Regions from separate parts of the Homo sapiens genome. Here all the other regions are linked to region 1. Evidence: fine-mapped expression QTL. A gene starts in region 1. Each other region holds a variant in brackets. All regions are shown on one strand. Distances are from middle to middle.

What was found. PIP is the estimated chance that this variant, and not a neighbour inherited with it, causes the effect.
Region 2: its variant is fine-mapped to the expression of NCF4 in whole blood (TOPMed, PIP 0.94).
Region 3: its variant is fine-mapped to the expression of NCF4 in whole blood (INTERVAL, PIP 0.98).

The regions. Positions count from the first base shown.
Region 1 is chr22:36,854,880-36,865,280 of GRCh38, forward strand. It overlaps NCF4 (neutrophil cytosolic factor 4), which reads left to right and starts at 6,127. Exons shown (of 10, transcript NM_000631.5): 1 at 6,127-6,324; 2 at 9,166-9,250; 3 at 10,040-10,193. The coding sequence starts at 6,293. The region is part of intron 1 of NCF4-AS1 (NCF4 antisense RNA 1); the gene reads right to left.
Region 2 is chr22:36,948,515-36,959,305 of GRCh38, forward strand. LOC124900478 (a long non-coding RNA gene) reads right to left here and starts at 6,146. Exons shown (of 3, transcript XR_007068091.1): 1 at 5,134-6,146; 2 at 2,281-2,584; 3 at 1-1,829. It also overlaps the pseudogene LOC124905162 and the pseudogene CSF2RBP1. The variant C/T (reference allele first, on the strand shown) is at 6,326.
Region 3 is chr22:36,878,869-36,889,659 of GRCh38, forward strand. It overlaps LOC105373022 (a long non-coding RNA gene), which reads right to left and starts at 10,436. Exons shown (of 2, transcript XR_938229.2): 1 at 10,328-10,436; 2 at 9,160-10,001. RefSeq lists a silencer at 102-294. The variant ATT/A (reference allele first, on the strand shown) is at 3,423.

The DNA.
Region 1 (10,401 bases):
AAAGCTGATTTTTTAAAAATTGAAGTAGAACGCTGTTAGAAGTGGTGCTTCCTCCCCTTGTTTCTAATGCCACCCTCTTGCAAGCCCATATCCAAGTAGTGGACCAAGGCATCTTATAAAAACATAAATTCAATCATATCACTCCTTGTTTAAAACACTTGAATGGTTTCTCTTTCCTCTTTGAATGAAATCCTGAGAATCACCATGACTTACAAGCCTATCTGTCCTGCTCACTGACCCTGACATTTGGAGGGCCTAGAGCAATGGGACAGAGGCCCATGTACCACGATTCTAAATATGTACAGTTAGGAATCAAGCCAATCAACTGCTAAAAAGTAAGTTCTATCCTTCTTTGATAAATGTACCTTCATGATAAACTGGAAGGCCAGGTTCAAATGTAGAGTTTGGAGTTCTGTCCCAGAATGTAAGGTTAACGAAAGGCAGACGCTAGACTATAGCCTACTGCCATTGCCTTTCCACCCCCGGATCCATCTGAAACCTCCAGGCTACCTGCCAGGCCGCTGTAGACATTTGTGTCCATAACCTCTGGGGACCAAAGACAGCACTGGAGATGGAATCAGAGAAACTGGATGTGAAACATGTATCTCTTGGTTTTCCCCAAATTGTACTTGATTCTGTATGTGTGTACATGTTTGAGCATGGGTATGCATGCACGTGTATATTTGCATGTGTGTGCATGCATGTATGTGCATTTCTATATGCCTGTGTGTACATGCATGTGTGTGCAGGTGTACATGTACATGTGTATATGTATGTGTCTCTGTGTACATGCCTATGTGTGCATGTGTATATGTACATGTGTATGTGTATATGTGCCTGCGTGTGCATGTGTATATATGCCTGTGTGTGCATGCATGTGTATGTGTTTATACATGTTTGTGCATGTGTATGTGTGCCTGCGTGTGCATGTGTATATGTGCCTGTGTTGTGCATGTGTGTTTATTTATGTACCTCAACAGCAGTGTGAGCTACCTGAGGGCAGCAGTTGTGCTGAATTCATCTCAATATCCTTTCTACCTGGTGCAGAGTGATACTAGATGAATGCTTGTGGAGTGAATAAATGAATGAATGAGGGCCAGTACAGCAGTTATTAAGTGTGGGTCTTGAAGCCAGACTGATGTGAGGTCCAAATCTTACTCTGCCGGTCATTAAGCAAGCCGCTTTGGTTTATTTTCCTAATCCCGTAAAGCCTGGGTTTCCTTATCTCCCGGTGGGGATAAGAATACCACTATTTTATGGGGGTTGGTGTGAGGATTAGGTAACAACAATCAGAGCCAACATGGACCAAGCCAGGCTGTGGGCCAGGCACTGTACTAAGGGCTTTGCAAATGCTAGCTCTCGTGCTCCTCCTGGCAATTTCACGGTGTAGGGGTGGTTACACAGTCAACTCTCAGAGTGACTTGGCTGTTACCGTATTTATGATGGTGGAGAGGAGATTCAGGATTCTTAGCCCCTGGGGGAAGCTTCCCCTGAGTGCAGCTCAGATTCTGGCTGATAGGGCTGTCTGGAGAGGTTGTCTGAGCCAGCAGGCTGCGCGCTCTGCCTGGCCAGCTGCAACTTGACTCTCGACTTGGCCGGGTCCTTCTAGTGCGGCTTATAGCATTCAACCTCCTCTAGGTGGCGCTGCGGAGCGGGGACTCGGCTGCTGATCGCGGCGCCCCCTGGCGGTCTGTTCCCGTCAACATTTAGATTAAGCGCAGAGCCGGTTCCGCCAGGGAAGTGCGCGTCCCGGTGCCCCCGCGTGATGAGAGCGGATGACAGATTGCGGGAAAAAGTTAGAATGTAACGTTAGTTGTATGACAGAGAGGACCAAGCTGTGCAGCAGAGGGAGACAGAAAAGGGAGGGACCAAGCCACAGCAAGGAATGATCGTCAATAACATTAACGTCTAGAATTTATTGACCACCTGCTATGCGCGAGCCACTGTCCTAAACATCTGGTATTCATTCCCTTAGTTAACACACCTCTAGTAAGTGCGTGTCTCAAGAACAGTGTCTGTGTTTCATTTAGGGCCTAGCACACAGTGGGTGTCTGGCACATAGTAGGTTCTCAACACATTTGGAAATGAATAATACAATAATCCTGCAATTTTTCTCTCCAATTAATAATGTAGAGGCAAATATTATCTCCATTTAGAAAACTGAACAATGGTCGGAGAGTTTGCACAACTAATGCGTGACACAGCGAGGGCACACGAGGTTTAGACCCAGCTCAGCCGTGTGCCAGGGCTTCTCAGAGAAGAGAAGACCCTCTGCCTTCAGGGAGTTTGCTGTCTAATTGGCCACGTCTACACCCTCCCTGCCTGGGTGGCATGCCAGGGATGGCTATTTATGGCTCAGGGAGGAGGTCCAGTGAAGTTCCCCTCATAAATTATAAAGGGAGACACATGTGGGTCAAGATTGGGGAATTCAGTGTGTGAGGGATCCCCAGGAATCTTACACTGTCCAATCAGGGATTTTCCTTCTCTTACCCTGGAGAGTGGCTGATGTAGGCAGTGGGGATTTGCTGAGTACCTATAATGAGCTCTCAAGGGTATCTCCTGGTCCTGTAGAAGAGGCTCACCTCCTCCCTATCACAGAGTTCCAGTTCCTATGGCTGGAGCTCTCAGCCCCAGCCGCTGGCTGCTCAAAGGAGAGTTTCCTCATGTCCAAAATGGGGGCTATGGTTTATCTTGTATACCCCAGCACCTGCATGAGGAAGGACTGAAAAGTGCTGTGCACTTTTGTGATTCGCACATCCAGTCCCCATTCAGGCTCTGGGGATCCCCCAGGCATGGTCTTGGTGTATTAGACTTTTTCCTGGAGATGTGATTATGAATGGGCATTAGTAAGTGGTGTTATGCAGAGATGCCCTTCTCTGAATGGCCTCTGGTATTTGTTTTTTGAGTTCTTGAGAACATATATATTTTTTGGTATTCCATGGTCTTTATCATTGTCAGGCTGTCACTGAACTGTCGCTTGCATTTGGCTGCCCCTGGTAATTTTCTTCCTTCCCCTAACTCACTGCTTCAAGTTCTTGAGTTGGCAGGAAGAGAGGACCAGGCTCCTTTTATATTTCTTCTGTGAATAAAATATGCCAGTGTCAATGCATAGACTTTGAGCTATCAATTCTAACCATTCAATGGCTTTTCTCTTTTTTTGGTTTATTCACAGGCTGTGGGATGTGGAGGTTATCAAAAATCAGGTCTCCATAAGTGAGAGGTCACTTCAGGCATTTCTTTGCACTTATCCAAAAAAGATTCCATCCATACTTGTTTAATGGAACGTGTGAAGAGCTTGGCTCCTCTTCCAGGTCATCCCTCTGCCTCATTCTCCCCCTGCAGCAGGAGCAGCAAGAGCCCGGTTCTGGAGTGGGAGTAGAAGGTACAGGCATTGCTGCAGCGGCAGGACAGGAGCCCATTGCTGACAGAGTGCCTGGCCTCAAATTACACTGTATCAGAGCTCGGGCATAAAATTGGCAGCAGCGTTCTGTGTATGAGGAGACAGAGAAATACCTGTATTCAGCAGAACCACGGGCAGGGACAGAAGAAAAGGAGAGAAAGAGGGGAGGAGGGGAAGAGCTGGCCCGTCGCGGGCTCTTCCCTGGACATCTTTGTCCCCCAGGTGCAGAGGTGGCTTCCCAGTGGCTGAGTCAGGGCCACAGGAGGTTTCTTGGGGGGTTGGGGGGGCCGGGGTTTGGAGGGCAAGCCATGAAAATACCTGGGAAGGTAAACTTGAGGGCTTAACCCACCTGAAACACACACATACAGATATACACACTGAAAACGATTAAAAAAGGAATAAGAAATGTCCATGTGTCTAGGCACTTTTATACAGTTTTCTATTAATTCCTACTACAACTCCATTAGGCAAGACTGTTTCACAGATTGGTGAAGAAGAAAGGTTCAAAAAGGACATGTTATCTTGCCTGAGTTCACCTATTATAAATGTACTTGTGTTTATACTCATTTGTCACCGACTGCAACCTAAACATCTAAACACATTCTCTCACAGCCACAATGCCACCACTATACACATTATATGGTCTTTTATAGACACAACACAAATGCACTTACACTTGCCTATGCGAGCTGTATGTGTTTATACACAAATATGTGTTTCCAACTATAGGCATATACTACACACACAGTTTACACAATCACCTACAAATTCTGTATCATGCTTGCTTGCTAAAATTGTTTTGCCACTTCCTGTCCTTCCTGACCAACTGTAGGCCAATGTCCTCCTCTTCCCTCAGTTATGGCTGTGTGCTTGCACCTGTTGGTACTTACAGACACCTGCACTAATAACCCTGCTCTGTGTTTCATTTCATCCTCTAGCCTGGGAGCCCCGAGACACCAGCAACTCATCAGACTTATTGTTTGTATTATTTCTAGTTCTTTGGGTGTGAATTCTTCATGATGTGGAGGCTCTGAGCTGTCTTTCACAGCTCACGATTTGTAGTTTTGGTCTGTGAGTTGACAGAGTAGGCCCTGCAGAGTCACTGACTCCAAGCTGTTTTTATATAATGCCTCAGCTTAGGATTTCTGCACCACGTGGGTAGCTTATATCGGGGCCTTACACCAGTGCAGAGGGCAGGCTTGAGGCTGATCTGGTACACACGTCCCTTGTTCCACCCATGGACTGTGAGAGGACCTCAGCTCCTGCCGTGACTCTAGGCTGATGGCTGAGAAACTCTGTTCCCATAATCAGTTCTGACACCCACTTTACACTGAGAACTCAGATTTGACTTTCTGCTAACAGCAGGACCTGTGGCCTGTACCTAGTCCCAGATTTGGCATTAAAATCTCAGCCCAACAATGCATATCCAATCTTGGTTTTCCCATGGGCTGTTGGCCACGTTCCTCTCCCCCTGGTATAGATTCCTGACCCCTCTCTTTGATCCTACCTAAAAATTATGCTTTCTTGTTTTTTTTAGCTGGGACTTGTATGTTTAAAGTAGTTTAAAACAACTTTCTGCTCTGCATGTATGAATACGAGTGTGTGAGCGTGTGTAGCTGGCAGGGAGTTACTGGGTGTGGCTGTGCCAATGACTCCTGTGGACCTCTTCTCAGAGAAGTCCCTTCAGAATCAAATACCCATACCTGTTAGGAGCTGCAGTCACTGACTGGCAGCGTTTCATTCATTCACTGAATATTGGTTGAGCACTTGCAATGTGCCAGGCACGCTGCTAGCCAAGGAGGCAGTCATTAAACATACAGATAAACAAACAAATGTGAGATGACAATAGTTATGAGTGCTCTGCAGTAGACGTGCAGGGACCTGTGAGAGAATGTAGTAGGGAGGGCCTTAATTTAGGGTGTGTGGTCAGGGAAGGCCTCGCTAAAGATGTAGCTTCTAAGCTGAGATGCAAAGGAGGCAGTGAAGAGCTTTTTCCAGCAGAGGGAACACCATGAGCATAGGCCTTGGGGCGGACGTCTTAGAACATTCTAGAAACGGAAAGGAGGCCAGTGAGAAAAAGGGAGCTCAGGAGCAGAGGCTGGGGAAGGCTGCAGGGCCTCAGGGGCATTGGAGGCAGGCAGGGCAAGGACTCTGGACTTTATCCTGAGCACAGGGTGATGGGGCAGGAGAGTTTAAGCAGGGAGGGTGAAACTCACTCTGATTGGCAGCCCTGTGAAAGAGGATTGGCTGGGCATGGAGATCTAAGGATGAGGAAAGGATATCCCAGAGTGCCAGGGCGCGCAAACCAAACTTCACACTCTAGGAAGACAGAGGCCAGAGGAACCAGGAGGGCTTCCTGGAGGAGGTGGCATTTACTCTGGGCCTAAGAGATCACAGGAAAATGGAGGCCAGCATTCTAGGCCTGGGGAAGAGTTTGGGCAAAGGCTTGGCAGTAAGAGAATAAAGGTGGGGCTTGATGGGCCAGAGGATAAGTGACTCCTCAAGGTCACAAGACACCCTGATGGCTGGGACCCCATCTCTGATGGAGCAAGGCTTCTGATACCCAACTGAGGCTTGGCGCCAAGGACTGACATCAAGGAAGTGGATTCCTGCAAACCTGGCACCCGAGGGTCCACTTCCTCAATTTCTGTGCAGCTGGGAGGTGAGGTAAGAGGAAGTGTGGGCCACAGGCTAGGCCCAGAGAGCCTGGAGGAGGAGCCTCTGCCAGACTGGAGAGAAGCAGGCCTGAGCCTCCCCAAAGGCAGCTCCTGGGGACTCCCAGGACCACAGGCTGAGACGAGACGCAGGGTGGCTGGAGGAAGTGAGAGGTGAACTCAGCCTGGGACTGGCTGGGCGAGACTCTCCACCTGCTCCCTGGGACCATCGCCCACCATGGCTGTGGCCCAGCAGCTGCGGGCCGAGAGGTGAGTGCCGGGGTGTGGCCGCCCCCGGGCCTTCTCACTGCTCCTCATAGGCCTTAGGGACAAAGGCCAGTCCTTCTGCAGTCCCTGATCAACATGAGAGGCTGGGGTTGAGTCAGAACCCAAATACTCAGAAATGCAACCTCTCAGAACTGCTTTAACGAAACTTTGAGCTGTGGCTCACCACCCTCAGACACAAATGAGAACACTGAGGCTCCAAGAGTGGGAGTGACTTGCCCACGGTCACACAACGAGTGACCGGCAGTGTCTGGAGAGGAATGCAGGTGTCCTGGGTCCCAGGCTGGGGCCCTTTGCTTCACATGGTGATCAGCAATGACTTTCCATCTTCTGCGCAAACAGAATTCACAGAATCTGGCTTGTTCTTCCGCTAATCAGGGCTTGCCTCAAATGTCACCTCCTCCAAGAAGCCTTCCTGACAGCCCCTACCTCATTGCTGTCTGACCCTTTGCCCTATTTCCCTTTTCTGCCTGGTTCTTATATTACAGGAATAATATTATATGCTCATTTATTATTTTTTCTTGAACGTTGGCTCCCCCATGAGAAGCAAGCTCCACGAGGCTGTGTCCGTTTTGATCGCTGCTGTATCACTAGGAGGTAGCTCATCCCTATTGAGCACCAGGACCAAGGGCTCAATAAATGTTGCTGAATGAATGAATAAATGAATGAATGAATGGGTGGATCTTTGAGACGGAAAAGGTCTTAGATTCTTCTAGTCCAACCTTGCCATTGTACAGATTGGAAATCTGAGGCCCAGGGAGGATAAGAGACTTACTCAGGGTCACAGAGAGTGACTGGCAAGGTTGGGGCTTGGAGCACGGCCTCACCAGCATCTAGCCTCGTCGCTTGGGAAGCATTTTCAGAATTTTTCCTCAGTAGCCAGGTCTGAGCTCTAAGCTGCGGGGGCCCTGAGGACGCAAAGCCTGGCCCCTGCACCCCCTGGATTGGAACAGCAGGTGACCTCTGTTACCTACGTGGAGGCCACTCAGGGGGTCACCAGAGACAGGCCAGGCTGGTGTGTGCCTACGCGGGGAACAGAAGGCCCATGTTGGGGCCTGGGGCTGGAAGTAGAACCTGAAGCGTGGGTTGGGGCAAGGGCAGCAGAAGCAAATGCCTACAGGGGAGTCCACGTGGCCTTCCTGAGCCTCAGAGCGGGGTGCAGGAGCTGGGTAAGGCTGGCCGACCTGAATTCCTTCCTCCCCTCACATGCTCCTGGGGGACCCAGCCGCACGCAAACTCGAATCTTCCGGAAGCAGCAGCTGTTTGAGGCTTGGGCACTTCCTGCTTTCTGGGGTACAGGGTTCAGGGGATGACACGGAGAGCTGACCAGCAGGACTGTGCACTCCCTCCCCCACTCCCTGTCCCCTTTCAGCTGCCTTAGCCCTCAGAGGGGGAGGGACTGCTTTTCATGAGGCCTTGAGCCAGGTACTAGGGGCATGGGGGCTCCCTGTACCTCGAAGGTCTTATCTGAAAGCGAGCCTGGATTGTTCTGCTTAAGGTCAAAGCAGAGAGTACAAGGAGAGGGCGCAGGTTCGCGCAGCGGGGACTTTCTAGAACCCCAAGGTGAGACATCCAAAGATGGGGAGGGCTGCCTTAGGGGTGGCAAGTTCGGTTCCAACAGACATGTTTTGAGCACCTACTATGTGCCAGGTGCCAGAAAACCTGCCCTGGCTGCCCTCCAAGGGTTCTTCCAACCTCGGCCTCCCCCAGGGCAGGCTCCAAAACCTCCCCCAGGCCAGGCTCCAAAGTCTGTGAACTGTGCGAGTGTGTCTTGAGCCAGAACATCCCGGCCCAGTAGGGCCTGGGTGAGGTCCCCAAGGGAGCGGATATTCCAGGGGACTTCCGGTTGGGTTTGCTGCTCTTCTTGCCCGCCCCACAGGCAGCCAGGCCATTCTCATGCTGCCCATCAAAAAACTCTATAATTGCAGACGACGGTAGTGGCCGTGTATTGAGCAGTACTGAGCACCTACTGTATGCCGGGCTCTGTTCTGGGCACTGGGATGTAGGGTGAGCAGAGTCCTTGCCCTCATGGAGATTTTAGGGCTGTGTTTGTTACAGATGGGACTGCATGACCACCCGGAGACATAAGTACTTCTCCTGTCCCCATTTTACAGAGGAGGGAAGGAGCGGAGCACAGCTAGGAATCTTCCCAAGGGAGCTTGATCTTCTTGTCCCCAGTGCTGCGCCTATGCCTCGAGCATCTGCCAATGTCTGTCCTGCTTGACTCCTTCCTCAGCCCCCACCACCCCAGGGAAAACTCGAGGTCCCTCTGCGAGGCATCAAGGCACCTCGTGAGCGGGCCCTGCCTGTCTCTCCGACTGGTCTCTCATCACGTTCCACCTCCTGCTCTGTGCTCCAGCCATGCTCAGCAACCTGCGGTTCCCTGAACTGAGCAGCTCCATCCAGGGCACATGTTGACTTTGTTTACATCTGTGACCCAGGGCCTAGGACAGGGCCTGGTATGGAGATGTTTGATGCCTTATTCCCAGGTGAATCTGTGCAATTGACAGCAATGTGTTAGACTATAATTTGGCTATTGCTATATGGTCACCAGCTTCCCATTCCTACACTCAATATGGCCACCAGCTTCCCATTCCTGCACTCAGTATGGCCGCCAGCTTCCCATTCCTGCACTCAAGGCCTGGGCTGTGTCTTGTTATCTCCGTATTCCCAGGGTCAGTGGCTGGACCTGGCCTGGGAAGGGGTGCTGAGAGACGAATGTTGGCTTCACAACATTAGTTTGCTTTGCACTCTACCTCATACCCGGTGGGCCCACAAAACACATCAGGGTGATAAGCAGGATCTCTTTTCCCCTCCTTCGCACAGTGACTTTGAACAGCTTCCGGATGATGTTGCCATCTCGGCCAACATTGCTGACATCGAGGAGAAGAGAGGCTTCACCAGCCACTTTGTAAGACAGACTCCTAGTCCTTCACCCAACAACCTCTGAACTTCCACCCAGCTGACCTCTGAACCTTGCCCTCTGACCTCTGAACCTCCAATTCTCTGATCTCTTAACTTCTATCTCAGTGGTTCTCAACAGGACCGATTTTGCCCATTTGACATTACCCTGGGAGATTCTGATTATTGCATCTTGGGGCAGGTCTACTCCACATCTAGTGGGTAGAATCCAGGGTGCTGCTAAACACCCCACTGTGCACATGACAGCCCTGTCCCCAGTAAAGAACTGTCCGGCCCCAGCATAATACTAAGATTGAGAAATCCTGATCGCGTCCTTTGACCTCAGAACCTCCACCTGGAGAGTCGGGGGTGAGGGACTTTAGTGTTGCCCCCACAACACCCCTGTCATATTCAGACACAGATGGAGGGGGCATCCTGCACCCACAGCACAGCCAGGGGCAGGTTCACTCTGCACCATGACCTCCAAGGCATGGCTCCTCATTTCTTGGGCCTGAATGTGTGTTTGGCCTATTTCCAAGGGCTCTTGCCTCTAACACTAGGTCTCACTTCCTCTCTTTTTCCAGTTTTTTTTTTCTTTTCTTTTCTTTTTTTTTCGCAAAGCTCGTCTGCTTCTGGGGCGCCAGCCTTTTGACTTGACAGGGGTCTCCTTCTCCAGAGACCCTTCTGCATCCTTATCCTCATCATCTTCCTCCTCCTCCTCCTCCCCTTTTCCCTTCCACCTCTTTTTGGCTTGTGCTCCTGGCCCCTGAGCCCTCCCCACAACCTCTGTCCTCCTTAGGTTTTCGTCATCGAGGTGAAGACAAAAGGAGGATCCAAGTACCTCATCTACCGCCGCTACCGCCAGTTCCATGCTTTGCAGAGCAAGCTGGAGGAGCGCTTCGGGCCAGACAGCAAGAGCAGTGCCCTGGCCTGTACCCTGCCCACACTCCCAGGTAGGCGGCCACTCCCGTCCTGCTGCTGCAGAGCTGCTGACTCTCCTTCCTTCCAGGGCCCCTGACACTGTTCTGTGATTTGATCTCAACCCCAGTGAAAACTGTTCATGTAGTTTATAGCCCCCACTCCCGGCAGTTACAGGCTGCCAAGCCCTCCCTGCATGGCTCCCCCTGCCTCACGCCATGGCTTCCACCCCAAGCACTCTAG
Region 2 (10,791 bases), 94 kb after region 1:
TTCCTATGCATGTGTGAGATGTGCCACCTTCAAACCTTGTTACTGTAAGAGTTAAAGAAAGAGGAAAGAAGCCAGAAAAGGGGCTCAACAGTCAAAAACAGGTTTATTTTGGAGAATAAACCTGAAAGGGGCTTCTGGCCAATTTCAGTCAGGAGGATTCTCTATTGCAACTATCAACAGCCTGCACTACAATCGTCTTAGCCCATTGGGCTGCTATAACCAAAATAACATAGACCGGTGGCTCATAAACAACAAGAGTATATATTGGTTTTAGAGTGAGAGAGCTTTATCACAGGCTTGGAATGTTTCTGTGTGGGGGAGAAGTTTATGGTGGGGTTGGAATGTCTCTGGCAGAAGGGGAGGTTATGTTGGGGCTGACATCTCTCTGCCGGGGGGGAAGTTATCTCCGGGCTGGCTTGTCTCTGGTCAGGGAGGGATTTATCTTATGGTTGAAATGTTTCTGGTCGGAGATGTCATTTGTGGCTTATGGTCATGCTGACCTTAGTCATTAGGCTGATGACCTTTGGATTTAGGCAATTTTTGATCAAGGGGAACTTTAGAATGGCAGTGCTTGTCCAAGATGGTGATGCTTCTGCTCTGTCAGCTACCATGTGGGCATATTACCTATCTGACATGAACTTAGAAAAAAAGAAACTAAAAAAAAAAGCAAAAAGGATTTCAACGCACTAATTTGAAGGGATATAAACATTCAATCCATGGCAACAGTGGTACATTTGTTACAACTGATAAACCTATGTTGATACATAATTATCACTCAAGGGCTATAGTTTACATGAATACATCTTGACAGGTATCCAGCATTATAACATGGCACAGAATAGTTTCACTGCCCTAAAAACCCTCTGTGCTCCACTTTTTCTTCCCTCCCTCACTCTACCCTCTGGCAACCACTGATCCTTTTTCTCTCTCCATAGTTTTGCCTTTTCCAGAATGTCATGCAGTTGAAATCATACAGTATGTAGCCTATTCAGAGTCACTGTTTTCATTTAGTAATATCCAGCTAAGTTTCCTCCGTGTCCTTTCATGGCTGATAGCTCATTTCTTTTCAGTGCTACATAGTATTCCATTGTCTGGGTGTATCATAATTTATTTATCCATTCTCCTACTGAAGGACATCTTTTTTGCTTCCAAGTTTTGTCGGTTAAGGTTGCTATAAGCATCTATGTGCAGGTTTTTATGTGGATATGTTTTCAACTCATGGGAGTAAATACCAAGGAGTACAATTGCTGATCATATGGTTAGAGTATGTTTACTTTTATAAGAAACTGCAAAATTGTCTTCCAAGGTGGCTGTACCATTTTGCATCCCCATCAGCAATGAATGAGAGTTCTTGCTGCTCCACACCCTGACCAGCATTTGGTGCTGTCCGTGTTCTGGATTTTGGCCATTCTAACCGGTGTGTAGCGGTATCTTTTTGTCGTTTTAATTTGCAATTCCCTAATGATGCATGATGCTGAGCACCTTTTCATACGCTCTTTTCACATCTGTATGTCTTCTTTGATGAAGTGTCTACTCTGGTCTTTAATTGGGTTGTTCATTTTCTCATTGTTTTTTTTTTTTTAATTTTGTTGTAGAGATAGGGTCTCGACTCAGGTGATCCTCCTATCTCAGCCTCCCAAAGTGCTGGGATTACAGGCATGAGCCACCACACCCGGCCCTTATTGTTGAGTTTTAAGAATTCTTTGAATAATTTGGGTAACAGTCCTTTATCCGAAAGTTATGTCTTTTGCAAACATGTTCTCCCACTCTTTGTCTTGACTTCTCATTCTCTTGATCATTTTAGTGGGAAGTTGTTTCTTGGACAATATCTAGCAAAATGAAAAACGTACACCTTTTGACTTTACTATTATGCTTCTAGAAATACTTGGACCCATACCCAAAACTATAGGTACATAAATATTTGTTGCAACATTGTTTCCTTCTAGAAATAGAAACCACAGGAGGGCGGTTCACACAGGGGACCAGGCCCCAGCCAAGGCCCCCTGTCCCTCACCATGCTGGGTCAGAGTGACAGTGAGCCAGGTGCCCAGAGGCCCGTCTGGCTGGAATGAGAAGTAGTCAATGTCACTGATGACAAAACTCTGGTAGGGAATGACACATCTCCTGGGCACACAGTGGGGACAGGGGCAGGCTGACCAGAGCATGTCATCGCTGAGGTAGCAGGACATGGGCTCCGGAGGGTCTCTGCTGGGAGAGGACACAGCTTAGCCCACTGTGCATGGGGATCACTCACTCTGCAAAGGTTCATTGAGTGCTCACCGCTCACTGAAGAAGCCTCCGGGTCTTGGATCGGGATTGGATCTCACTGCTAGTGAGTGGGAAACAGTCATGAGCAAAGGCGTTGCAGATTTTGATGAATGCTTTGAAAGGATTCCTGAGGGTCCTCGGTTGTGAACAGACTGAGGTGGGAATGTGGCAATGTTGCAAGCAGGGAACCCTGTTAGGAAGCTTCTGGAATATCCAGGGGACAGGAAGTGGTGTGCACCAGGGCAGTGGGGCTGTTGTGGGTGAATTTGCGTTCTGCTTGAGATAAGGTTAGCGGCATTCTTTGGTGGATCGGATGCTGCAGTCGGAAAGGAATGGTGGCAAAAGAGACTTAAAAACAAAACAAAATCCTCCCTGTTGTTTAGTTTGAGCCACTAGGAGCTCCCATTTAGCAAAGGGAGATGGGGAAGACAGAGGCAGCAGAGCCACTCGGGTGAGAGGGGGACTTTGGTTGAGGACCTTTGTAGTCGGAGATGCCTGTTGTCTAAGTGACAGGTGGAGACGCCAGTGCGCCTGGAGGGCTGGAGCTTAGGGGAAGTGTGGGCTCAAGGTCGCCTTTGGGAGATGCCCTCATGGCTGGAGGTGGTCTCTGCAGAGTGGATACAGCAGAGAGGAGGTCCATGGACTGGGCCTGGGGCGTTTCACCCTTGGCAGCCGAGAGAACAAAGAGGCAGCAGACAAGGAGAAAGAGGAGGATGGGCAGGGCCCTGGGGGTGCTGGGTGAGCTGTGGGCAGAGTCAGGTGCAGGAGGAACTGCAGGGAGGCCGCGGTGGTCCTCCTTGTCAGGGGCTGCCCCTGGTCAAGTAGGAAGAAGGCGGAGGCCCAACCATGAGATTCTGCTCCTGGGATGTTTGCTGACTTGAACCAGAGCAGTTTGGGTGGCCTGATGGGGGCAACATCCTGGGGAAGTGGGCTCAGGAAGAAATGGCTGGAAAGACACTGGACATGATGAGCGTGGACAACTCTTTATGGGGTTGCTGCTGTCAAGGGAAGCAGAGAAAGGGGGACCGCAGGGTTGTGAGCTCAGGAGATGCCCAGGCGCTGCACTCCTGTGGGCATCTGTGAGGGGGTTGGGGCAGGTTTGCAAGGCGATTGGGAAAGATCCTGGGAGAGGGCACGGTGGGTGACACAGGGAAGAGTGGGGACTTGGGGGCCGTGATGTTCCTGAGCAACAGGGCCAGACTGCATCGGGTCTCTAGCCTTAGACAGGAGCCCCAGCCCAGAACCAGGCCCAGGCCCAGGCCCCAGTGGTGGGCAGAGGGGGTGGGGAGTGTGAGTGTGGGGTGGGTGGGGAGCTTCTCCCTGGTCCCCTGTTATGTCAGAGCAACAGGAAGCAGATCACAGGGAGGGGCAGGATGGTATTTGAGGAGAATGGAGAAGGTCTGATGGAGCTCCCCAGGAGAACTGAAGGTGGTGGAGGGGTGGGGGGTGGCAGAGCTGGGGCCCCCTCCCCCTCTAGGTGGGGAGACCTCCAATCAGTTGTCACCTGCCTCTCTGGTTCCAGTGGCTTAATTATTTCATTTAAGGCTGATTCAGACCCTGGCCAACACCGCAGAGCAATGCCGGTCCCCTTCCTGTGTGGTTCGTGCCCAGGAGAGCTCGGGTGGGAGAGGTGGCAGCCCACATGCAGAGGAGGAGCCTGGGAGAGCATGGAGCCCCCTCCCAAACACGTCCACACGGCCTGTTCTGCCACTCCCCATCTGTGGCCAGGGCTGGCGCCTCACCTCCAGGGCCTCAGTTTCCCCATCTGTGAACTGGGCGTCGTGGCCTGGCCCTGCCCACCTCGCAGTGAGGAGGAACTAAGATAGGTCATGTGGGGCAACTGTGTTAAATTGTGACAAAATAAGAGAAGATTGTCACCATTGTTACCAGCACCATCCTCAACGACATCAGTGTAGAACGTGCTCCCCAGAAACCCCAGATCAGACAGTAGTGCCTGGCAGGTGCCTGGCTGAGCAGGAGCTCCCGGGAGGGCCTCCGTCCTCCTCTGTCCTCTGTCTACTCCCACCCCGAGGCTGACCTGACACATCCCTCTCTACACCACCATCCCACGCCAGGCAGAGGGGACACCGTAGCCCCTACCCGTGGCCCCTGCACCCAACGTCACAGACTCATTCACCCGGCGAATGAGGGTCACGTTGACGAGCCGCTGGGCATCCTGGGTGTCTGCCCACCCGCAGGTGATGTGGCTGGTATAGTCACTGTAGCAGCGCAGGGTCTGCAGCAGGACGGTTTCTGACAAGAGGGGCAGGAAGGGGTCACCTCTCTCCCCTGCAGGGTCCCTTATCACCACCACCCCCAGCTGATCTGGGGCAGAGGTGCCCTGGGTTGGGAAGGGGGTCTGCCAGGGTGAGCTTCTGCCTGTGGACCCTCCTCTCCTGACAGAAGCACCGTGCAATCCCTGCAGAATGGAGACACGCAGCAGCGACAGGCCCTGCCCCCCAGACCCCCAGGCATCAACCCAGCCTTGAGATGAACCCCAAGCCAGGACGCTGCTGGAGCAAAGGTCTGGAGGTGGAACCACTGAGGTGCAGCGAGTGTCTGCTGGGGAAGGAGGAGAAGGGAAACGGTCAGAGCAGCCACCCTGGAGCCTGGGGGCCTGGAGTGCCGTGCTGAGAAATATGGGCTGGGAACCCAGACACACTCAGCTGGACTTTCCAGGACAGGATGAGCAGGAATGTGCAGGAGGAGGGAAGTGAAGGAAGCCCAGGGAAGGCCGGGGAAGAGACGAAGCAAGGGGAGCAGGAGGAGGGTGGGTGGGCAGGGTCCTGGGGGTATGGTGCGGGCCTCCTCCAGGGTGCAGCAGTGAGGAGGGGGCAGGGAAGGGGTGGGAGCCACGGAACTCACCTTCTGCCCCTGCCAGGCTAAGTCCCCAGCACAGGGCCAGCAGGGCCATGAGGAGCAGCTCCCAGGCCAGCACCATTTTCCTGGTCAGCTCTGGACAGGCAGGTGCTGGCACAGGTGGATGCTGGCCATGGGCTGGGGTGGGGTCTTCCATGCCCTGGAGTCCTGTGTTCCTGCCCAGCTGGGAGCCAGGCCAAGCTGATCTCACCAGGTCTTGTTATTCCTCCATCCATGAATTGCCATCCTACCCCAGGTCTTGAGAAAGGAGATGTGGGCCAGGATAAGGCCCATCCACCCCTCTCGTCTTCCCAGGGATATGGCCGATGAGGAGGGAGAAGGCCATGTTGGGGGTACGGGGAGCCTGGTCCTGCGCCTTCTCCACCTAGTGTGGATCTCCTCCTCTGCCACTCTCACCCTTCCCCGCAGTGCTGGTGTAGATTCTGTGTGTTTGTATTGGGTGCTACTGGGTTGATGCCCAAGTGGGCTGCGTTAAGCTCTTCAAGTGATTTTGGCAGATAAGCTTTGTGGATCCACCCACCACAGATGGAGCCTGTCTCCTCCCAGGTCTTGAGGATGCACAGACTCCCTTTGGGCCACCTCACTCAACACCAAACACTCCACCATCCTTCCTCACCTGCCCCAAGCTGTTACTGCCCATCCCTTCTTCTCTGCAGGAGCCTGAGGCATTTCTTAGTTTCTTGCCCTTTGTGATGTCAGAAGAAAAGACAGAGGTCTTCTTTTCTTCTTTCTCAACACTTCTGAAACCATGAAACACGCAAGCCTCCACCCACTCACACACCCACATACACACCTACACATACCTGCACACACATGCTCAGACAACCCTGATGGGACCTGACCACCCTACGAGGGCGCTGACAAGACCTTGAGGATGCTGGGAACGAGCCAGGAAGGAGGACAGGATAGGAATGGAGTTCCTGAGGAGGCAGCAGGGCTTCTCGGTACAGAAAATGGTGAACTCTCAGTCTTCCTGCCCTGGCCATGCTCAGCTGAACAAAACCACACCAGCTGGTCTCACTTAAATTCAGGATTACCATCGGAGGCGGGGGTTGTGGGGAGGCTCTTAACGCTGCCAGAACCCCAAATGACACTTCCCAGCAGCAAGGAGGAACTCTGCCCTTCCCAAGAAGCTATTTCACACCTCTCCACTTCCGTCACACCTCTACTTCCCCTG[C/T]ACCCCATTCCCATGCCCCACTTCCCCTGCACCCCATTCCCATCCCCCACTTCCCCTGCACCCCATTCCTACACCCCACTTCCACTGGACCCCATTCCCACAGCCCACTTCCCCTGCACCCCATTCCCATGCCCCACTTCCACCTTAAGGACTCACGTATACCCAGGCACTATACAAACACACACACCCACAACCACATGCACAGACGCCAATGCAGGCACCCCTGACTTGCATCAAAGTCAACACCCAAATGGGCCAAATGGCTCCAAGTGGAGGAGGAGGGGCAAAAGACAGGCATGGGCAGAGGGAGAAGAGGCTTCTGCTTCTGGCCATAATGGAGTAACTAGGACCAGGTATAGCCTTCTACTTTAGAAGTATAAAACTGGACAAACGATATTAAAAATCTGTTTTCAGCTGTTAGAAAAGAGGAGTCCTTCTATATGATCGCTCAGAGAGTGAAAACAAACACGGTAGGTCCTATGATCATCCTACCTTTCTTTTCTTTTTCTTTTTTTTTTTTTTTTTCTGAGAGGGAGTTTCGCTCTTGTTGTCCAGGCTGGAGTGCAGCGGCGTGATCTCGGCTCACCGCAACCTCCGCCTCCCGGGTTCAAGTGATTCTCCAGCCTCAGCTTCCCGAGTAACTGGAATTACAGGCACTCGCCACCACACCCAACTAATTTTGTATTTTTAGTTGAGACGGGGGTTTCTTCATGTTGGTCAGGCTAGTCATGAACTCCTGACCTCAGGTGATCCTCCCACCTCGGCCTCCCAAAGTGCTGGAATTACAAGCATAAACCACCGTGCCTACCTTTTTCTACCTTTCTACCACTTTCTTGACTGTGACGTAGGTAAAAGAACTCCAACATGACCATGGCAGTCTTGCTGTGTTGGGCGATAGGGGTCTGAGTCTGAAGAGGCAAAAGAAGCTGGAATTTGGTGTAGAAAACAAGAGAAGAAAGAGCTGCACAGAGAAAGAGACCCAGCAAATCTACACAGAGATCCTCTTGCATGTACTGCTGCACACTAAACCATGCATGTGTGGGGTGGAGCTCCACTAGACTGTGTAAATAGTACACAGAGAGATGTATCTGAACAATTTCCAGAACTCACCAAGGTCTGGGAGATGTTCAAGTTCCAACAAGCCAGAATAGGAATTCTTACTGAACACCTCACACATTCAGTAGAGAACCAAGAAGAAAAACACCTTAGTGCCAGCACTAAACCAGCCCAGGAGAGGGCCATTCTAAAACTGCTCTAGGCCAGCATGGTGGCTCATGCCTGTAATCCCAGCACTTTGAGAGGTCAAGGCGGGTGGATCACTTGAGGTCAGGAGTTCGAGACCAGCCTGGCCAACGTGGTGAAACCCCATCTCTACTAAAAATACAAAAATTAGCTAGGCGTGGTGGCAGGTGCCTCTAATCCCAGCTATTTGGGAGACTGAGGCAGGAGAATTGCATGAATCCAGGAGGCGGAGATTGCAGTAAGCAGAGATTGCACCACTGCGCTCCAGCCTGGGCAACAAAGTAAGACTCCATCTCAATAATAATAATAATAATAATAATAATAATAATAATAATAAAAGTCCTCTAAGGAAGCTTAAAAACAAACCTTAAAAGATCAAACTGATTGATATGGTTTGGATTTTTGTCCCCATCCAAATCTCATGTTGAAATGTAATCCCCGATGTTGGGGGTGGGGCCTGGTGGAGGTGTTTGGATCATGGTTGGGGGATCCCTCGTGAATGGCTTGGGCCATCCCCTTGGGGATGAGTGAGCTCTCACTCTGAGTTCACAGGAGATCTGGTCATTTAAAAGTGTGTGGTACCTACCCCTACGCTGATCTCTCTCTCTCTTTCTCTCGTTCCTGCTTTCATTGTGACGTGCCTGCTCTCCCTTCACCTTCTGCCACAATTGGAAGCTTCCTGAGGCCTCCCCAAAAGCTGAGCAGATGCCAGCACCATGCTTCCTGTACAGCCTGCAGAACTGTGAGCCAATTAAACCTCTTTTCTTTATAAATTACCTGGTCCTGGGTGTTTCTTTATGACAGCATGAAAATGACCTAATACAGAAAATTGGCACTGAGAGTAGGATATTTTCCATATTAGGTCATTCTCATATTGCTGTAAATCAATGAATGCCTTAGACTGGGTAATTTATAAAGAAAAGAGGTTTAATTAGCTTACAGCTCTGCAGGCTGTACAGGAAGCATGGCACCGGCATCTGCTTCGTTTCTTGGGGAGGCCTCAGGAAGCTTACAATCATGGCAGAAGGTGAAGAGAGAAGGCACGTCACACAGTGAAAGCTGGTACAAGTGAGAGAGAGAGAGAGAGAGAGAGAGAGAGAGCACTAGTGCAGAGGCAGCTGCCACACACATTTATTTTAGTTTTTTTTTATGTTTTTATTATTATTTTTGAGACGGAGTCTCGCTCTGTTGCCAGGTTGGAGTGCAGTGGCACGATCTCAGCTCACTGCAACATCCACCTCCCTGGTTCAAGCTATTCTCCTGCCTCAGCCTCCCAAGTAGCTGGGATTACAGGCGCACACCACCACACCTGGCTAATATTTCTATTTTCAGTAGAGACGGGGTTTCACCATGTTGGCCAGGCTGGTCTCAAACTCCTAGCCTCAGATGATCTGCCTGCCTCCGCCTCCCAAAGTGCTGGGATTACAGGCATGAGCCACCATGCCTGGCTGGTGCCACACTCTTTTAAATGACTGGATCTCCTGTGAACTCAGAGCAAGAGCTCACTCATCACCAAGGGGATGGTCCAAGCCATTCAGGAGGTATCCCCCCGACCATGATCCAAACACCTCCCACCAGGCCCCACCTCCAAGATTGGGGATTACATTTCAATATGAGACTTGGGTGGGGACAAATATCCAAACTATGTCACTGATCTGCAAGTAACTTAATGACTCATCAGAATAAAGTCCAACACTTTTTGAAGAAAGACAATACAATGCAGCAGTCACCAACATAAAATAAACAATGCTCAGCATCCAATCAAAAATTACCAGATGTAGGCCAGGTGCAATGGCTCACACCTGTAATCCCAGCACTTTGGAAGGCCGAGGCGGGAGGATTGCTTGAGCCCAGGAGTCTGAGACCAGCCTGCACAACATGGTGAGACCTTGTCTCTGCAAAAAATAAAATAAAATTTAAAATTAGCTAGGCATGGTGGTGTGCACCTGTAGTCCCAGCAACTCGGGAGGCTGAGGTGGGAGGATCACTTGGGCCTGGCAGGTGGAGGTTGCAGTGAGCTGAAATCGTGCCCCTGCACTCCAACCTGGATGACAGTGAGACCCCATCTAAAAAAAAAAAAAAAATTACTACATGTAGAAAGAAGGAAGAAAATGTAACTCATAACAAGAGAAAAATCCGTCAAAGATAGAACCCCAAAATGATGCAGCTCATTATGGAACTGGCAGACAAGGACTTTGAAACAGTTATTATGAATAGGCCGAATAATTTTTCAAAAACATGAACATAACAGAAGTGGAAGATGTCAAAATAAAAACAAATAAAACTGCCACAGATAAAAGTACAACATATGAAAAGAAAATGTCATTGAATTGGCTTAATATTAGTGAATTTGAAAATATAGTAATTGAAATTATCTAAATTAAACACAGAATAAATCTGAAAAATATTACTATAAACTCCCATTCATCATTCAAGCCTCAGCTAACGCAGGGCCTCCTCCATGCAGCCTTCCCTGACTCCTCATGGGGATACAGATGGGAGTGGCTCCAATAACCACAGCTGGTGTGAGCCCAGAGCCAGACAGACCCGGGTTGGACTCCCACCTCTAGTATTGCTAAGAGTGAGACCTTGTGCAAATTATCTGCATGTTACTTCTCCAAGCCCCAAAACTGTCATCTGTTACTTGGAGATGGTCATCTACAAACCTCAAAATGATTTTGAAGGAACCAAGTGAAATAATGCCTGTCACATGGAAACCGATGATCGGAGTTAGCTAAATCACTTGTATTTTCCTTGGTTCCTATTTTGCCCTGTCCCTTCTTCCCATACAGTCCTGGAGTGCTCAGTGTTCATGCCCACCCCCAACCCCCCACAAACACACCTGATTCATATCTCTCTCCCTGGTTATTTGCACATGTCCTGGCACAGAGTTAGCACTTGAAATTGTGTGTTGGAAAATTTGGGTATTGGAAGGTATTGGAATGAATGCATGGATGGATGGATGGATGAGTGGGTGGGTGGATGGATGGATGGAGGGATGGATGGATGGATGAGTGGGTGGATGGATGGGTGGATGGATGGATGGATGGATGGATGGATGGATGGATGGATGAGTGGATGGATGGATGGATAGATGAGCAACTTCTTGAGGATAGAAGCTCCAGAGCCTATGCTTTTCTACTTTGCATCTCTGGTTCTATCCAGCCAGGTATGAGGCTGTGCACACAGACTGAGGAAACTCACTTGGTGACATAAAGACTGGG
Region 3 (10,791 bases), 24 kb after region 1:
CTCTCTGCAGCCCTGTGTTGTAGAAGCACTATTCCAGGTCATTACAGCAGAGAGGACTGAGTTTCCTGCAGTTCCCATACAAAGTACCAGGAAATTGAGCTTAAGCAACAGAAATCGATTGTCTCACAGTTCTGAATGCTAGGTGTCCACAGGGCCATGCTCCCTGTGAAATATGTAGGGAAATCCTTCCTTGCCTTTTCTTAGCTTCTGGTGGTTTGCCGGCAATGTTTGGTGCTCCTTAGCTTGTTGATGGATCACTCTGTCTTCACATGGCATTCTACCTGTGTGTATTTACAGTGTCTTCCCTCTGTGCATGTCTGTCTCTGCATCCAAATTCCCCCTTGTATAAGGACACAAGTCATATTGGACTAGGGCCCATCCTAGTGATCTTCTTTTACCTTGATTACCTCTATAAACCTCCTCTTTCCAAATAAGGTCACATTCTGGAGTACTAGGGGTTAGGACTTCAACATGTCATTTTTAATTCCAACATAACACTTCAACCCATGACACTCCCTTTACCCACTCAGCTCCCCCTCCTAGGGCAAGGGCTCTGCAATAGGCGTAGCAGGCTAAGAATGCTGAACCTTAACCCTCTGGTAGAGCAGGGGTTCCATGCTGAGAGGGGCAATCTGAGATCAAGGGATACCGTCCTCCACTCCAGTGCCCACTCACAGAACAGGACATCACTCCTGGAGAAGCAGGCTGATTTCCCCATCCCCAGCTCTGATGCAGTGGTGCAGAGGTTCTGCCCAGGGAGAGAGTCAGGCCTTAGGGATGGAGAATTCCACAGCTTTTCCTGAGGGGACTAACTTTATTTGGGAAGCATGCCGAAGAAGTTGGCAAAAATAATGGAAATCTTGGTGGCCGGCAATTAAGGAGGGGCTAGATACTAATGCCATCAAGAGAAATGTAAGGCCAGAAATTTAACAGAGAACCAGATAAAGAAATAACGAAGAATAGTGGTTCTAGGACTACAGTCATCCCTGAGGACTCAAAAGATTGTGCTCTCGTGCCAGGCTGCACCCACACAGCAGAAATCAGAGTGGAAAGTGTGGCAGACTTGAAATCATTCCCTAAACCACATACAGATCCATCAGCAAAACACGCTAGCTCAAGAGGCTGAAGCATAACCTCTGACCAAGCAATGGCTGAACAATAAGCTAATCTGACACAGAGGGGATTCTTAGGAAGGCAGGCTTAAAAATAAAATTACACTCATTTCCTGGTGGTCTGGAAGACTGCGTGCACGCCCAGGCCGATCACTCTCAGGAGTGACTGGAGAAAGAAACGCTGGGCTATCAGTTTCTGACTGAACATGGGGCAAGTTTGAACCCTGTACTGTAAAAGATGTCTTCAAACCACATTCACGGCCAAAAGTAAGGGGTGAAACCAATCTAATTGAGGGGGCTTCAGCACAACTTTTCACCAATAGGTGGTTTATGCAGACCCAGGTGCAACCTCTAGGAAACCAGGATAAGAGAGAAAAAAAAAAAAAAAAACACAAGAGGAAAAAATACGAGCGGGGGCATCATAAGCTACACATTGTAGGGGAAACGGCCCTCACAAAATTAGTTCAGTGAAGCCACTAAACAAGTAAACAGATAACAAACCAAATAACAAAAACATTAAGCCCTAGAGGGAATAGGAGAGCAGCATCTAGAGTTGCTTCAAAATATAATCTAAAATGTTCAGTTCCTGATATGGTTTGGATCTGTGTCCCTGCCCAAATCTAATGTCTAATTATAATCCCCAGGTTGAAAGTGGACCCTTATGGGAGGTGGTTGGATCATGGGGGTGGATTCTCATAAATAGTTTAGTGCCATTCCCTCCGTGCTGTTCTTGCGATGGTGAGTGAGATCTGGCCATTTAAAAGTATGTGGCACCTCCTCTTTCTCTCTCTCTTCCCCTGCTCTTGCCATTTAAAACTTGCCCGCTTCCCCTTCATCTTCCACCATCATTGTAAGGTTTCCTGAGGCCTCCTCAGAAGCAGAAGCCACTAGGCTTCTTGTATAGCCTGTAGAACCAAGAGCTAACTAAACCTCTTTTCCTTATAAATTATGCAGTCTCAGGTGTTTTTTTGTTTTTTTGTTTGTTTTTTGTTGTTGTTGTTGTTGTTGTTGTTGTTTTGAGACTGAGTCTTGCTCTTGTTGTCCAGGCTGGAGTGCAGTGGCATGATCTCGGCTCACTGCAACCTCTGCCTCCCAGGTTCAAGTGATTCCCCTGCCTCAGCCTCCTGCGTAGCTGGGATTACAGGCACCCCCAACCTTGCCCAGCTAATTTTTGTACTTTCAGTAGAGATGGGGTTTTGCCATGCTGGCCAGGCTAGTCGCGAACTCCTGACCTCAGGTGATCCACCTGCCTCGGCTTCCCAGAGTGCTGAGATTACAGTCATGAACCACTGCACCCAGCTGGTATTTCTTTATAGCAGTGCAAGAACAGGCAAATATAGTTCCCAACAAAAAATTATAAGAATTGCAAAGACACAGCAAAGTGTAATCCATACACAGGAGGCAAATAAAAGCAGGCAAAGGAAACTAAAAAAATTGCCTTTGAGGGAAGGATTCAGATGCTGGACTTAGCAAACAATGACTTTATATTAGGAATATGTTTAAATAACTAAAGGAAACCATGTTTAAAGAATTAAAAGAAAGTATTGTAACAATGACTCTTCAAATAGAGAATATCAATACAAAGACATAAATAATTTTTTAAAAGAGAACCAAATTGAAATTCTAGAGTTGAAAAGAACAATAACTGAAATGAAAAGTCCACTAGAAAGGCTCAGCAGTAGATTTGAGTTGGCAAAAGAATGTTAGCAGAGAAAGTATAAGCAAACTGAGAGATAGATCAATAGAGATGATGCAATCTTAAGAAAGAAATAAAGAAAAAGGAGTGAAGAAAAATGAGCAGAGCATCAGAGAAATGTGGGACCCATGAAGTGTACCAACATATGCATAATGAGATTACCAGAAAGAGAGGAGAGAAGGAGACAGAAAAAGGATGAAAAGAAATAATGATTGGAAACTTTCCAATTTTTATTTTTTAAAAAACCACCAATCTACATATCCAAAAAGCTCAACAAACTCCAAGTAGTAAAATACAAAGAAAGCCACACTTAAACACATCATAGTCAAAATGTTGAAAGCCAGACATAAAGAGAAAATCTTGAAAGCAGAAAGAGAAAAATGACTCACCGCATAAAAGGGAACTACATTAAGACTAACAGCTGATTTCCTGTCAACCAAGAATCTTACATAAAACAAATCTACCACTCAAAAATGAAGGTGAAATTAAAACATTCCAAAATAAGCAAAAACTGAGAATATTCATTGTTAAGCAGACTTGCCATTACAAAAAAATATTAAAGGAAGTTCACTCTAATGGCTTCATTTTAACTTGATTAGCTCTGTAAAGACTCT[ATT/A]TTTTTTTTTTTTTTTTTGAGATGGCGTTTCACTCTTGTTACCCAGACTGGAGTGCAATGGTGTGATCTCAGCTCACTGCAACCTCTGCCTCCTGGGTTCCAGCAATTCCCCTGCCTCAGCCTCCTGAGTAGCTGGGATTACAGGCGTGCACCACCACGCCTGGTTAATTTTGTATTTTTAGTAGAGATGGGGTTTCTCCATGTTGGTCAGGCTGGTCTTCAACTCCCGACCTCAGGTGATCCACATGCCCCAGCCTCCCAAAGTGCTGGGATTATAGGTGTGAGCCACTGCACCCAGCTAAGACTCTATCTCATGTAAGATCACTGCATTCTGAGATACTGGGGTTAGAAATTCAACATATCTTTTGGGGGAGAATACAATTTGAACCACAACAGTACACTAGAAAATATCCATTTAAGAAAAATTTTAAAAGACCTTGCAAGGTGTGATCTCCCAAACCCAGTTATTTGGCTTCTAGTTTGTTGCCTGACCACATTCACCAAGAAAATTTTCTGCCACAAAACAACCAGACCTCAGCTAGGACACAGGCTTTGAGGAATTATGAGCCTCACAAGAAGCAAAGGAGTTCTCCAATGATTCTTCCACTCCCCACCAAAAAAACTATGATAGGAGCTGAAACCAGAATACAGAGCAGTTGGGGTGTTGTTTTCTGGAGTGCAGAGGCAGTCCAGAAGGCAGAGCCATGGGGAGGCCATGAGATAGGGAGGCTGCGCCAGGGGCTTCCGTGCCAGGCCAAGGCCCTAGATGTGAGAGCTGAGGTGATCTGGAGAGAGTGGCATTCCTGGCTTCAAGCAGAAGCGGAAGAGGGTCTCCTCTGGAGTAAAGTATTTCCAGTTTAGGCTGGCAGGAGTTACCCTGATTAATATCAAGCAAAAGGCTCATAGTCAAAGATCACCAAATCTCTGTGAGTGAGAATGAGCAGAGGCAATAAACAATAGCTTTAGAGCCCCAGGGACTACCGATTACCGAATTATGTGACTGAAATATTTAAAGAAATAAAGAATGTAACCATAAAGATAAACAAGCAAAAAAGAATGAGATGGCAAATTTTCAGATGTGTAAAAGAAAGAAGGTATGAACGCATCTATGTGTGTGCGTGTGTGTGTGTGTATACACACATATATATTATTCAATGGGTGAGTTGGTAAAAAGTCCAAATTTATCAATAATTCTGATACCATAAACATAGATGGATTCCATGCATGAGTTAAAAGACTGTCAGGGCCGGGCACAGCGGCTCATGCCTGTAACCCCAGCACTTTGGGAGGTAGAGGCTGGCAGATCACGAGGTCAGGAGTTTGAGACCAGCCTGGCCAATATGGTGAAATGCCGTCTCTACTAAAAACACTAAAAAATTAGCCGGGCGTGGTGGTGCACACCTGTAATCCCAGCTACTCAGGAGGCTGAGGCAGGGGAATCGCTTGAACTCGGGAGGCGGAGGTTACAGTGAGCCGAGATCGCACCACTGCACTCCAACCTAAGCGAGAGAGTGAGACTCCGTCAAAAAAAAAAAAAAAAAGACTGTCAGATTGAATTTTTAAAAATCTAAATCTATGTAAGTGTCATATGTACAAGAGACACACATAAGGTAAAACGTCATGGAAACATTGAAATTAAAAAAAAAGTATGAAAAAAGATATTCCTGGAAACCACTAACCAGAAGACAGCTGGGACGTCTATACAGATTCACAATCTACTTTTGTGTAAACTTGGTACTCAAACTCACTTGGTAGCACTCCTTGACCCTGAGCTGAATAGTTAACGCTTACCAGCCATATGTGTCTCTGCTATTCCCTTATTTTTTGATGCTTTTGGGGGGATGAATTTTGATTTTATGTACAGCTCAAGTAAGAACCCGTCAAAATCAGAAGTGAAAAGCTTTTGCTGATAATGAAGCTGATGAAAATTGCATGGGTGGATTTGTTAAGTAACGGTATCTGATGAAAACCTTGGCTCTGATCAATTGGCAGTGGGCTTCAGTCTGCTCTGCAGAATGGCTGATGAGGACCCACCAATTGCTTACACCCTGTTGACTGTTCTTGGCGTACCATGTGCTACAGGAACACACCAGATACATTTGACAGTAACTGGAAAAAGCCTACATCCACCATCTTTGTAGGATGTATCCAATTTACCGTCTGTCAGTACACATACTAGACACCATGAGTAACCAGAGAAATATTTTCTGACTGATTAATAACATTTTTATACCAGCGGTACAAACTCATTGCAGGGATTCTAGCTTGGAAAAAACAATTGTTAGATGTTATCATTCCTAGGAAACTGCTATGCATACTCCCTCCCTAAACATCTTGTGGAAAAGCAGTTTCAGCTTTTATTTCCCCTTGGGGGATATGTGCATTTTAGCCTAAGTGCAAAGAAGTTTAGAGGAAGGGTAAACACTTTTTTTCAGGCTGTGCTCTTGCTACCATCACAGAACCTAAGATTCCATGGCTCCCGAAAGAGTCCAGTGTTAAGAATGTCATGTACACAATTGACAGTGTTTGGAATGATGCTGATTATACATTAACACATTTGACACAGATTCTGACTATACTGATGCTTGCAAACAAGTCTGTACATAAAGGTTTTGGAGAATTTTTGTGACTTATGAGAAAATGATGATGTAAGACTTCATTCTTGCACAAAAAGTTTATCAGCTAAAAGTGGAAATAACTGAGAAAAACTGATACCAAAGAAATGTCAAACACCGTGATTCAGCTATTGTTCATTCTTTGCATAGTGGGGAAGTTGCTAACAAATACAGATAAGGGTTACTGTGATGATAATGACTACACAATTAACACAGAGTAAAACATTCCCATTAAAAATATGGTGAATATTTAATTAGTTAATTATGGGCCTTGAGCAATTCTCAATTAATGGTGAGCAGGAGATAATGGAAAATTACCCAATTAGAAACAGGCTTCTCAAGTAGGCATCTCATGGAATAGGATGCTGGAAGAAGTCATTAAAAAGGCAATTGATTGCAGTGTGCTTCTTGGTTTGGGGACCCTGTTCCTGGTACATCATGAGATGTCCAGGAGGGAATATCTGGCATCCTCAAGTTAAGATAATTCAAGGTGTGTTTAATAAAGGGACTGTTTACAAAGACGTAGACAACACACAGGAAAACCTCAAGGAATAGTTCAATATCCCAGGGATAGGACCTCAGACCTGTTACATTCCTGAGCCCAAAGGAATAAAGGGAAGGAGTGTCTACAAAACCTGGAAGGAGGGGATTGTGTAGACATGGCCTCCTTAGAAGGACTGGTGATCTTTGACTGGTGGGCGAGATTGACCCAAAGTAACCCCGCTGGGAGGCGATCAGAGGAACAAATACCCCGCCCTCCTCTCCTTCCCCATTCTGATCTCAGGGGAGGGGTTCCCTACTGCCAAACAAAACTGGAAGCCCTAGGGCCAGGCTGTTGTAATCCACACAGGTTAGCTTCCCAAGGTAGACAGCAGGGCGGAAGAGAGCACAGTGTAGATGTGAGTGGGGAAAAATGAAGATATCTGGCATCCTCCACCCGTTTTGCCCCTCATTATATACGCTTATCCTTCAGCCAAGTGAAAACTCCATGTTCCCAAGACAGGGAACACAGGAATTCCCATCAGCTATTTTGGCATTTTAGGATCATATCCATACAGACATACTCCCACCTGAAACCCAAAGTGTGAGCTGCTACGGGTATTCTTTATATAAAGCAGTGGAGGCATGATGAATGAAGTAATATACGCATGGCTGTTAGAGCCCCTGCATCCGCAGCTGGTCACAGGTCCAAAGCTGATATTTTGAGCTACCTGTTCCCAGTGTTCATTTCATGTTCCTCTTTCCTCTGCCAGTACATGGGTCAAATAAGGGTCTTTATGTGGTGGAGCAACTCAAGACTTCATTCCTATGGGATCTGAGTTCTCGTTAGACTTGTCTTTATCAGATTGCCTCAGTATTCCATTGACCAGGACTATTGGGTAAGAAAATACTGAGAGGCACCTATGTGAATCACGGTGGGACCACACATAGTCCTGTCTACCTCCTTTCTTTTTTCTTTTCTTTTCTTTTTTTTTTCTTTTTTTTTTTTTTTTTTTTTTTTTTTTTTGAGATGGAGTTTTGCTCTTGTTGCCCAGGCTTGAGTGCAGTGGCACAATTTCAGCTCACTGCAATCTCTGCCTCCCGGGTTCAAGTGATTCTTCTGCCTCAGCCTCCCAAGTAGCTGGGATTACAGACACCCAGCACCAAGTCCAGCTAATTTTTTTTTTGTTGTATTTTTAGTGGAAACGGGGTTTCACCATGTTGGCCAGGCTGGTCTTGAACTCCTGACCTCAGATGATCCACCTTTCTCCACCTCTTTCTCCACCTATTGGCTCAGTGGCACAAGGAGGGTCAAATGGTTCAAATTTCTAAAAAATATCACTTTGTATATGCCACAAGTTTTCATATGCCCTATTGTCATTTGATTGTAACTACTATTTAAATTCAATTAGGATATTATCTGAGCTATCAGTTACTTAGAAGTGTGTTTTAAAATTTTTAAACATGTGAGGATTTTATTTTTTGTTTGTTTGTTTTTGGGGGTTTTTTTGAGTTGGAGTCTTGCTCTGTCGCCTAGGCTGGAGTGCAGTGGCACAATCTCGGCTCACTGCAACTTCTGCCTCCCGCGTTCAAGCGATTCTCCTGCCTCAGCCTCCCAAGTAGCTGGGATTATAGGGATGCACTACCACACCCAGCTAATTTTTGTATTTTCAGTGGAGATGGGGTTTCACCATGTTGGTCAGGCTGGTCTTGAACTCCTGACCTCAAGTGATCCACCCACCTCGGCCTCCCAAACTGCTGGGATTACAGTTGTGAACCACCATGCTTGGCCATGTGAGGACTTTAAAAAAACACTTTTTTTTCTTTTTCTTTTTAAAGTATCCTTGCACGTTTTGTGCAGATTCATTTGTCTTTCATGTCCTTCAGTTTTAGAGACCTAGACAAGCTAAGGGAGTGAATCAAAATCAACAGATAACAAGGGTGAGGTTTCTCAAACTGAAGCATCCTGTTTACGTCTGGTAAAACCACCTCCACAGAACATCATGCGTCGTCAGGTATAAGGCCTAACACCTGTGGTGTGTAGTGATACAGCATTTTATCTCTTCCTTGTAGCCCATGAAATAAAGAGAAAGTTTGTTCAAGAGATGATGGTAGTTTTCACTGCACTAGAGTGTTACAAGAAAGTAAGTGAGAACAATAACCCCAGGACAGGGAGGCTGCTGCTCACTGCTCCAGCATCTGCAGCATTCTCCTGAGGGGACACATTAAGGCAGCAGAGAGACATTTCCCAAAATAAACAGCGAGGGAAATAAAGGTGTAGGAGTCACAGTGAGGAGGCTAAAGTGACTCCATCTTGGAAGCTAATCCACCATGTTGACTTCTGATTAACCCCGGTTCTGGGAATGCCGCTAAGATTTCCATTTTATCTATTGTTCTTTGTGTGAGAACATATGCCTACCATAAATCCTGCCTTTAGATCAAATTAAGCGTGCTACCCTTTCTTTATGGTGTATAATCCCTGGGTCTGGGGGATAATAGTGTAGAGATCTACCTGTCTCACAGCTGCCCAAGACCATCCTTCAGTCCCTAAGTTCCCAAATAAAACCATCCTATAACAAGCTGGATTCGTCTGCTTCCTTCTTTGGTATCCTGGCTCCTATGTTTGCAGGTCACTTTGCATATACAGGCTTAAAAAAACACTTTTAATAGTCAAATATAACAATACAGAAAGTACATAAAAGAAAAATAGCTGAAAATTAACAAGCTAAACTTCCAAAATCAGAAGTAAAAAAACAAAAACAAACAAACAATAGAATTAGCTCAAGGAGAGAAGTAAAGACATAAAGATAAGGCCAGAACTCAAGATCACCACAACCAACAACAAAAAATACAATAGAAAAGGTCAACAAAGCCAAAATTGGGTTCTTAGGAAAGACTATGGTAAAACTGATGAAGATAAAAAGAAAGAAGAAAAAATAGTATTAGGAATGTAAATGAACCATAATTATAGATGAAACAGAGGTTTAAAATACACTGAGAATTTCGTCAAAAGCTTTATATTCTAAATTTTAAAATTTAGGTTAAACAAATACTTAGAATAGTATAATTTGGTTTAAAAAATCAAGAGAATAGAGAGACTGAATTTTCCTTTAACTATTAAATACATTGAAGTTGAAATGTTGCCTCCCCAGGCACATACAGTTTTATGGGCAAGTTCTACCAAACGTTAGAACAGCAGATTATGCTAACATTACAAAAAAATCTTCCAGAAAATAGAAGATAGACTATTTCCCAACTCATCTATGCAGCCAGAATAATCTTCTTGCCTGTCTTAGTCTGTTTTGTGCTTCTATAGCAGAATACCACCGATTGGATAATTTATAAAGAAAATAAATTTATTTCACACAGGTCTGGAGGCTGGGCAGTCCAAGGTCAAGGCACCGGTAGATCAGGGTCCAGTTTCTCTGTTTCCAACATGGCATCTTGAGCGCCGCATCCTCCAGAGGGGAGGAACACTATGTCTTCACATGGCAGAAGAGCAGAAAAGGAAAAGAGTAAATCCATTCCTGCAAAGCCTTTTTATAACAGTATTAATCCATTAAACACCTCCCAAAAACTTCCACATTCCAACACTGTGACATTGGAAATTGAGTTTCCAACACATTAATTTTAGGGGACACATTCAGACCACAGCAATTCCCAAATATGCAAAAGCAGTACAAGTAGTAAAAATTATAAATCAATCACATATATGAAGATAGAGACTTTAGCAAACTAAATTCAGCAGGAAACACACATACACACAAAGACAATATAAATGCCTACATTAGGTTTAACCCAGACATACAAGGAAAGATTTGCATCTAAACATGTATAAGTACTATTCATGCCGGGCGCGGTGGCTCACGTCTGTAATCCCAGCACTTTGGGAGGCCGAGGCGGGTGAACCACGACGTCAGGAGATCGACCTCGTTCGGCGGGTGGACCACGAGGTCAGGAGATCGACCTGGCTAACACGGTGAAACCTTGTCTTTACTAAAAACACAAAAAATTAGCCGGGCGTGGCAGCAGTCGCCTGTAGTCCCAGCTACTCGGGAGGCTGAGGCAGGAAAATGGCGTCAACCCGGGAGGCGGAGCTTGCAGTGAGCCGAGATCGCGCCACTGCACTCCAGCCTGAGCGACGGAGCGAGACTCCGCCTCAAAAAAAAAAAAATTATTCACCACCACATAAAAGAATAAAGGAGAAAAACTATATGATCAACTCAACAGATGCGGGGAAAATAATTTGATACAATTCAAGACCTATTCATG